Homo sapiens: one gene and its partner. The protein of the gene in region 2 interacts with the protein of the main gene of each other region in a pairwise test. Each region holds a gene or a part of one and is shown on either strand. Other genes may lie near its edges.

Region 1 (3,652 bases), on a different chromosome or scaffold from region 2:
GTTGTAGATACGATATAATGCATGATTGGATAATAGGAAATACCTTTTAGTAGAATGTATGATTCTTGATAGGATATCCTGCCCATTGGCTTTGACAGTTGAATTAACCTATTTGGCTGACATTGACCCTCCTACTGACCACGATATATAAGAAAATATGAAATTAATATAAAAGCTATCTTGTACTGGTAGCAAGATAGCTACTGGTAGGAAACATTAACAATAGCATCGTAAAATATAGAATTGAAAATGTGAGTCATTTTGCTTTTAAATCTCTATCATGTACATGACTGACTTCAGTTGTTCTCTCTCCTCCCTTTTGTTCTGTTTCAGAGGTTGAAGGCTGCATTGACTCACCACCCTGCTGCCATGTCAAATGGGAACATGAACACCATGGGACACATGATGGAGATGATGGGCTCCCGGCAGGACCAGACGCCACACCATCACATGCACTCGCACCCGCATCAGCACCAGACACTGCCACCCCATCACCCTTACCCACACCAGCACCAGCACCCAGCACACCATCCTCACCCTCAACCCCATCACCAGCAGAACCATCCACATCACCACTCCCATTCCCACCTTCATGCACACCCAGCACATCACCAGACCTCGCCACATCCGCCCCTGCACACCGGCAACCAAGCACAGGTAGACCTTTTCCGTGATCTCTTTCCCCTTCTTATTCTCCTTCTTAACAGTGCAAGCTCTAATGCTGGGGTCATTTGCAGCAATCTTGTTTGACAAGCCCAGGTGTTCTATCTCACATTCTAGGGGCTCTGTTTATCTCCTAGGAGGCAAGCCTTACCCATAAGACCCTACCAGATCATAATTTCTATAAATAATACACTAAAAAATATCAGGTCTAGTCTCTAAGGGCAAGCATAAACTTTAAGTTCTCCAAAATCTATTTTTGCAGTGTGTCAGAAAGTTAGCCCCTCTCAAAAGTAATATGAATCAATGGATTAGGAAGAACTTAAGCTTGTGAAGAAAGATGTGAATTAAGAATGAGAAAAACGAGTTAATTCTAACCCTGGTTCTAGCTGCTATGTTTTAAAACATCATAGAGACTCAATTTTGTCACCTGTAAAATGGAAGTTAAATACAACAGGCAATCTTCTGAGTAACAGTGAATGTTAAAAATCTAAAGAGTAACAATTCAAGGCAGACAAAGAAGCTCCATCATGGATGCTAGGGCGTAAGGTGCTGTGTAAATGGTGAAGAGAGGTGACTCATCCCCCTGAATGAGAAATGCGTTGGAGGGAACAGAAAGAGAGCCAAGTTCTGTAGATGATCAGACCAAGAGAAAGGCCAAATCCCAGTGGGTGAGAGTCACCAGGAGTGGCTGCAAAGAAAGCCAGCATTTAGACAAAACTGAAAGAGGGTTGGGGGACCAGGCAGACATTATGTCACCCACGGCCAAGAAGAGAGGCGAGTCCTGTACTGGAGTGAGTTTTAGTAAGTGGATGAAGGGCATGTCCAGGAGCATGGCTGGGCCTAGACACTTTGGATCCTCAAGCAGAATGACTTTCATCCATACCTTCCACCCAGTCCACACTGCCAGCTTCCAACCAGCTGAATCAGAAGGGTGTCGGAAGCATGGAACCGCCAAAAAACACTTATTCACTGTCTCCTCTGTCATCTGCCTCTGGAGACGTGACTTTATACCCGGCAGCTTTTTGAACTCTTGAGCCCCCCTCCATTAACATGCACCAAACCTGGACAGCCATCCACAGAATGGGTCAGGCACAAGCAACTCTCGAAGCTATTCATTAGATAAACTGTCTTTTGCAAGGTTCTTAGAGGTGTTCTACATTGTGAATAAGAATTGAGCATTAGAATGAGATAACCTTAATTTTTTTCCTGCCTTCCTCACTGTGTGATTGTGAACAGAAACAACCTCTCTACCCCTCAGTTTTCCCATCTGTAAAATGGGGCTGGGTAATAGTAGACTAAACTCCTAGGCTCTTATGAGTATTAAATAAGAGAATCTCTGTAAAGCCCTTGACACAGTGTTCAAAATATGTTATTCCAAACCAGTAGAAGTTTAGCAAATTGTATAGCAATCAAATGCTATCCAGAGAACATTTTTAGTCACATTTTTAGTCAAACGCCATACTAGAACATGTATTTAGAAAGAAAAAAAAAAACTACAAAGTCAATGATGGGCAAATTGATTCACATTTGTACTTAGTTTATAAGGAAACGAGAACATCAAGGTTTGGTTGCCTTTATGGGCAAGTTATTTCACAGAGCAAGTTATATAACAATTCTTTGAATATAAAAGCCATTCACTAGCTAATTACCAATTAGCCAATTGCCCTCTGTTTCAAGTCAGTAAGTGGCCAATAGTATATGCAATTAGTTAATTGCTATTATAATTAGCTTTATGAACAGTTGCTTTTTTTAATTGTATGCTAAAAAGAAAGAGCCCAGGTTGGTCTTGCTAAAATTTGAACCAGATCATTTAGGCAGTATCCCAAAATACCACTCTTAAATTGTATTAACTTGGCTGATTACTGAGATCTTGCCATTTTGCTTAATTGTATGATTATCTGAAAGTAGGAATAGAATCCTTTGAACTCTGAGATTCTAAGGTGATTTGGAATAAAATCTGCCTTTTTGAAATTATAATTTATTACTTTTGATCAAAATTTTCAGAGCATCTATGCCAAGAGAATTCTGCTTTAAAAATAAAATTACAAGCGACAATAATTACCAGGTATACAAATTCTGGTTTTAGGGTTGTATTTGCATTTTCTCCTGGCTTCTTGTGCTCCTCCTGCATGTAAGGATGTGATTGTAGAGTGCTGGTTTCAAGGAATTTCTCTTAATCAATCCTGAACCTAATTACACCTGAAACCACGTCACTTATGCCTTTGGGTGAAGGCACAGGAAAAGTATCATGGGTTACAGGTTGATTAAACTTAGGGTAGGAGGATACAGAATTGAAAGATAAGTCCCTGCAATGGAGATTAAAAATCAATTTTTTCCTATTTGAGGGTTTTGTCTGGGGCTGGCAATAAGAGATTATAATTCACAAAAGGAAACAGTTAAAGGCAAAAATATCCGAGCAGTTAGCACATTCCCTCTTAATGCTTTTCTTTGCAGTAGTTAGCTCAGGAATTAGCATCTGGAATGACAAGTGCTAAGCCCCTGCCAATAACAAGGATGACGCCTTCACTAGCAACTCTGATGAGTAAGACCTTAGACAGTTAATTTATTTTGTTATTCCTCTATAATCGGGAGGAAAAGAGTCACCAACAAACAAACAGTTCTAGAAAATGTCTTTGCTGGCCTGGTGCGGTGGCTCACGCCTGTAATCTCAGCACTTTGGGAGGCTGAGGCGGGTGGATCACGAGGTCAGGAGTTCAAGACCTGCCTGGCCAAGATGGTGAAACCCTGTGTCTACTAAAAAACTACAAAAATTAGCCAGGCATGGTGGCAGGCACCTGTAATCCCAGCTACTTGGGAGGCTGAGGCAGGAGAATCGCTTGAACCTGGGCAGCAAAGGTTGCAGTGAACCGAAATCGCGCCACTGCACTCCAGGCTGGGCGACAGAGAGAGACTCCGTCTCAAGAAAAAAAGAAAATGTCTTTGCTTTGCATAAAATTACTAAGATGCAGTTCAACCTCAACCCTGGGCC
Region 2 (3,752 bases):
AGCGTGTCCTCCTCGCTGGTGAGCTGGCCCGCCCTCTCAATGGCGTCGTCGAACATGATCGTCTCAGTCAGTGCCCGGTAAGCCCTGCTTTCATGATGACCATGGTCGATGCGACCACCTGCAGGAAGGCCAGAGGGGGGAGATGCTGAGCCTGCCCTGCTCCAACCCCCAACCCCCACTCCCCAGGGGCCACCACGCACCCTCCACGAAGAGGAAGAAGCCGCGGGGGTTCCTGCTCAGCAGGCGCAGGGCAGCCTCTGTCATCTCCATCAGGGAGGGGTCCAGTGTGGAGTCTCGGTGGATCTCGTATTTCATGTCTCCAGGCTCAAAGAGACCTGTGGGACAAGGGGTCCTGTGGTGACTGGCAGGCTGGGGGTGGGCGGGTGCTGGCGGATGTGCACACAGGCTCAGAAGGTGCCATCTGAGGCCATCTGAGGGATGCCAGGGCAGGAAGGGGGTCATTACCCATGAGATGGGTCACAGACGGGTCCAGGGAAGCCTGCATGAGCTCAGTGCGGTTCCACACATACCGGGCACCCTGTGGGGAGGGAGAGAGCCAGGCCTCAGCCCACAGCCCTGAGCCCCACACCTCTGCCCTCCCCCTGCTGTGCCCCCTGCACCCGCCAGCCCCCATCACCTGGCGCTTCGCCAGCCATTCCTGCACCAGATTCTTCCCGTCCAGCCTGGTCCCACCTTGGCTGTAGTCATCTGGGTACTCAGGGTCTGGGGTTCCCATGCGAAACATGTACTTTCGGCCTCCACCTAGGATCACCTGGGAACAGAGGATGGGGCAGGTGGATTTGGGGCCCTGGCTGGCCCCGTGCCCCCTCCTCATGCACAGCCCCTGACTCCCCTCCCCAAGGCTGTGGGAATGGCCCAGCCTGGGCTGCACCTTCTACGCCCACAACCCCACCTCCAGACCCTGCTGGCCCAGATAAGGCTTTTGGTTGCCTGGGTCTGAGCTAGTGCCCCCTCCCTGCTACTCTCTGCCCAGCCCCAGCCCTTGGCCTGGGGGTCGCACGTCAATGTCCATGTTGGAGATGAGCTGCGTAGCGATGTCCTGGCACCCCTCCTGGCGGGCGGAGGCAGGCACGTCGGCGTCCGAGTACCAGTTGCGGTTCACCGTGTGGGCGTAGGTGCCGGCTGGCGAGGCGTGCTGCACTCGTGTGGTGGTTACCACTCCCACTGACTTCCCTAAGGGTGTCAGAGGTCAGTATATGTGACCAACGTCTGTGACCTGGCCGTGACCCAGCAGCGGGCCCCAGCTCACCTGCTTTCTTGGCCCGATTCATCACGGAGATGACCTCGTTGCCGCGTGTCGTGTTGCACTGGTTAAAGCGGGCGGCTGCACTCAAGCCAATGGTCTGGAAGTTGCCCTTGACCCCGCACAGGTAGGCCGTGGCTGTGGCTCCACTGTCTGGCACATGTTTGTCTACATTGTATGTCTGGGGACAGAGACACTCTGAGCTCTTCTCTGGGGCAGACACGGAGACCCAGACCCTGATCTCTGTCCTCTGGGATTCCAACTGCCTCTAACTCCTTACTGGAGCCCCAGCTGTTTAGGGTCCCTCCCTCCTACCACACTCCATAGCCAGGATTCCCCTTCTGTGCTTGGAGGACTCTAAGGTAGCCCAGCACTTACCTTGGACAGAGCCACATATGGGAAGCGGTCCATGGCCAGGGGTATCTCAGGCCCCAGTTTGTCCTTCTTCTGCCCTTTTAGGATCCTGGCAGCTGTCACCGTAGACACCCCCATCCCTGAAGGAACAGAAATGTGTGAGGCTTGGGCCCCAGGGCTCTCCTGGAACCACTGAGGGTCCGGGCGCCGGGGCTGTGAGGGCTGCAGGGCTGGAAGGCCTGGCTCACTCACCATCGCCCAGGAAGATGATGAGGTTCTTGGCGGCTGTCTGTGCAGGCTGCAGCTTCTTGGCGGCACCCAGGGCCTCGGCTGCCTCGCGGTTCCAGAAGTCCGGGTTCTCCTCCTCAACTGGCCAGGGGGAGAGCAAAAATCAGGTCAGCCTGGGCTGGGGGGTGCCCTGTGTGTGTGTTGTGTAGGGGCAGCTCGGGGAGCCTCATTACCTGGGATGATGCCCAGGGAGAGCTGTAGCCTCAGGCCCAGCAGCAGCAGCAGCAGCAGCATGCAGGGCCCCAGCATGTCTGGAGGGCAGCAGGACAGTGGCGAGGCAGGAATTCTGGGCATGGAGTATGAGCTGCACTCCAGGCTGCCCGGGTTTAAATCAGGGAGAACTGTGTCCCGGCTTCTCCCCTCGTTGCCACCTTGACCCTGCCCAGCCTCTTGACCTGAAGCCACACTGGCTGAAGGGAGTGGCAGGGTGTGGCTGGGCTGGGCCGGGCTGGGGCTGGGGTCCTGAGAAAGGCAGCTCAGGTTGGGACCAGGTGTCCCCCAGGGAAGGGTGCGGTATTGAGTACAGATGCCATTTGGGTGAGTGTGGTGTGCCTCCCGCAGCCAGGAGCCCCTCCCCCAACCCCTGCTCACTGTGTCTTGTGTGGAACAAGACACCCTGTCACTGGATCATTCACCCATTTTTTTCTATATTTCCCAGAAGCTGGGGCCAGGCTGTGTTCTGGTGTCGAGAGGAGGGGAGGCTGGAAGCACACAGTCTGGGCCAGGGCCTGGGTTCAGCCTCCTGATGCCAGGAGCCTGGGCCCTGTGGGAAAGGGGCACGTGGGGGGCTTTGCTGCCCTGGCACCCCCTTGCTCCATCATCTTACCTTGGCCTGGACAGGTGGGGCTGGCAGGAATCTGGGCCCAGAGCTCTAGGGCTGTGGGCAGCTGTGGGGCCAATGGTGACAGCACTGAGTGGGGCCGGACCAGTCCTGCCCATTGCTCACATGTTGTGTGTGATTGTGTATGTGTTTGTGTGGGTGCACTCACACTAATGTTTGGACGACGCAGGTGGGGAGTCCACCCCAGCCCAACCACAGCAGCCCCTTCTCCACTCATGCTTGCTCGCCCCGAGCCCCAGGCTTGGCCCCCAAAACCCAGGGGACCTCACCTGCTGCTCAGCCTCTGCCTTCCCCGCACCACTCCCCACCACCCCCACGGGCCTCCCCTCAGGCCGAGCTTTCTGGAGTCCTCCTGCCTGCCCCCCGCCTGGCTTCCTGCTGGTCGTCCTGGGGCTCTCAGGGAAGATGTCACCCTCATGGGGACATTCCTTCCTCCTGCTTATTGCCCCCTTAGTTCCTTCTACCTCCTGCTTCATCTTGCTGAGTTAGGAAATTTCTGGGCTAAATTTCAGAGGAGACTCACTAACAGGCAGGCCCTTAATTAATTCATTGATTCACTCTAAAGTCAAGGCCAGTCAGGAGCTTTTGCCGCCACCCCACAATTATTTTTCGAGCTGGAATCTTTTGGTTTTGGAGACAGGGTCCCATTCTGTCAGCCAGGTTGGAGTGTGATGCCTGAGTTACGGCTCCCTGCAGCTTCGGACCTCCCAGGCTCAAGCAATCTTCCCACCTCAGCCTCTCACGTAGCTGGCACCAATGGCATGTGCCACCACACCTGACTCATTTTTTATTTTGTGTAAAGACATGGTTTTGCTATGTTGCCCAGGCTGGTCTCGAACCTCCACCTCAGCCTCCCAAAGTGTCTGGATTTACAGACATGAGCCACTGCGCTCACCTTCCTCTTTTTTTTTTTTTTTTTTTTTTGAGGCAGGGTCTCATTTGTCACCAGGCTGGACTGCGGTGGCATGATCATGGCTCACTGCCTCAGCCTTAGCCTCAGCCTCC

The links.
Region 1: the proteins of ALPP (region 2) and CREB5 interact in binary tests that used the Homo sapiens proteins (3 or more experiments, as listed by UniProt).

What each region holds. Positions count from the first base shown.
Region 1 is NC_000007.14:28,803,866-28,807,517, forward strand, and holds part of CREB5 (cyclic AMP-responsive element-binding protein 5), read left to right. Parts: intron 1-333; coding exon 334-657; intron 658-3,652. UniProt on the Homo sapiens protein: Binds to the cAMP response element and activates transcription.
Region 2 is NC_000002.12:232,377,206-232,380,957, reverse strand, and holds the start of ALPP (alkaline phosphatase, placental type preproprotein), read right to left. Parts: upstream 2,208-3,752; 5' UTR 2,156-2,207; coding exon 2,080-2,155; intron 2,014-2,079; exon of another isoform or gene 1,988-2,013; coding exon 1,871-1,987; intron 1,759-1,870; coding exon 1,643-1,758; intron 1,446-1,642; coding exon 1,271-1,445; intron 1,195-1,270; coding exon 1,022-1,194; intron 773-1,021; coding exon 638-772; intron 539-637; coding exon 466-538; intron 336-465; coding exon 201-335; intron 119-200; coding exon 1-118. UniProt on the Homo sapiens protein: Alkaline phosphatase that can hydrolyze various phosphate compounds.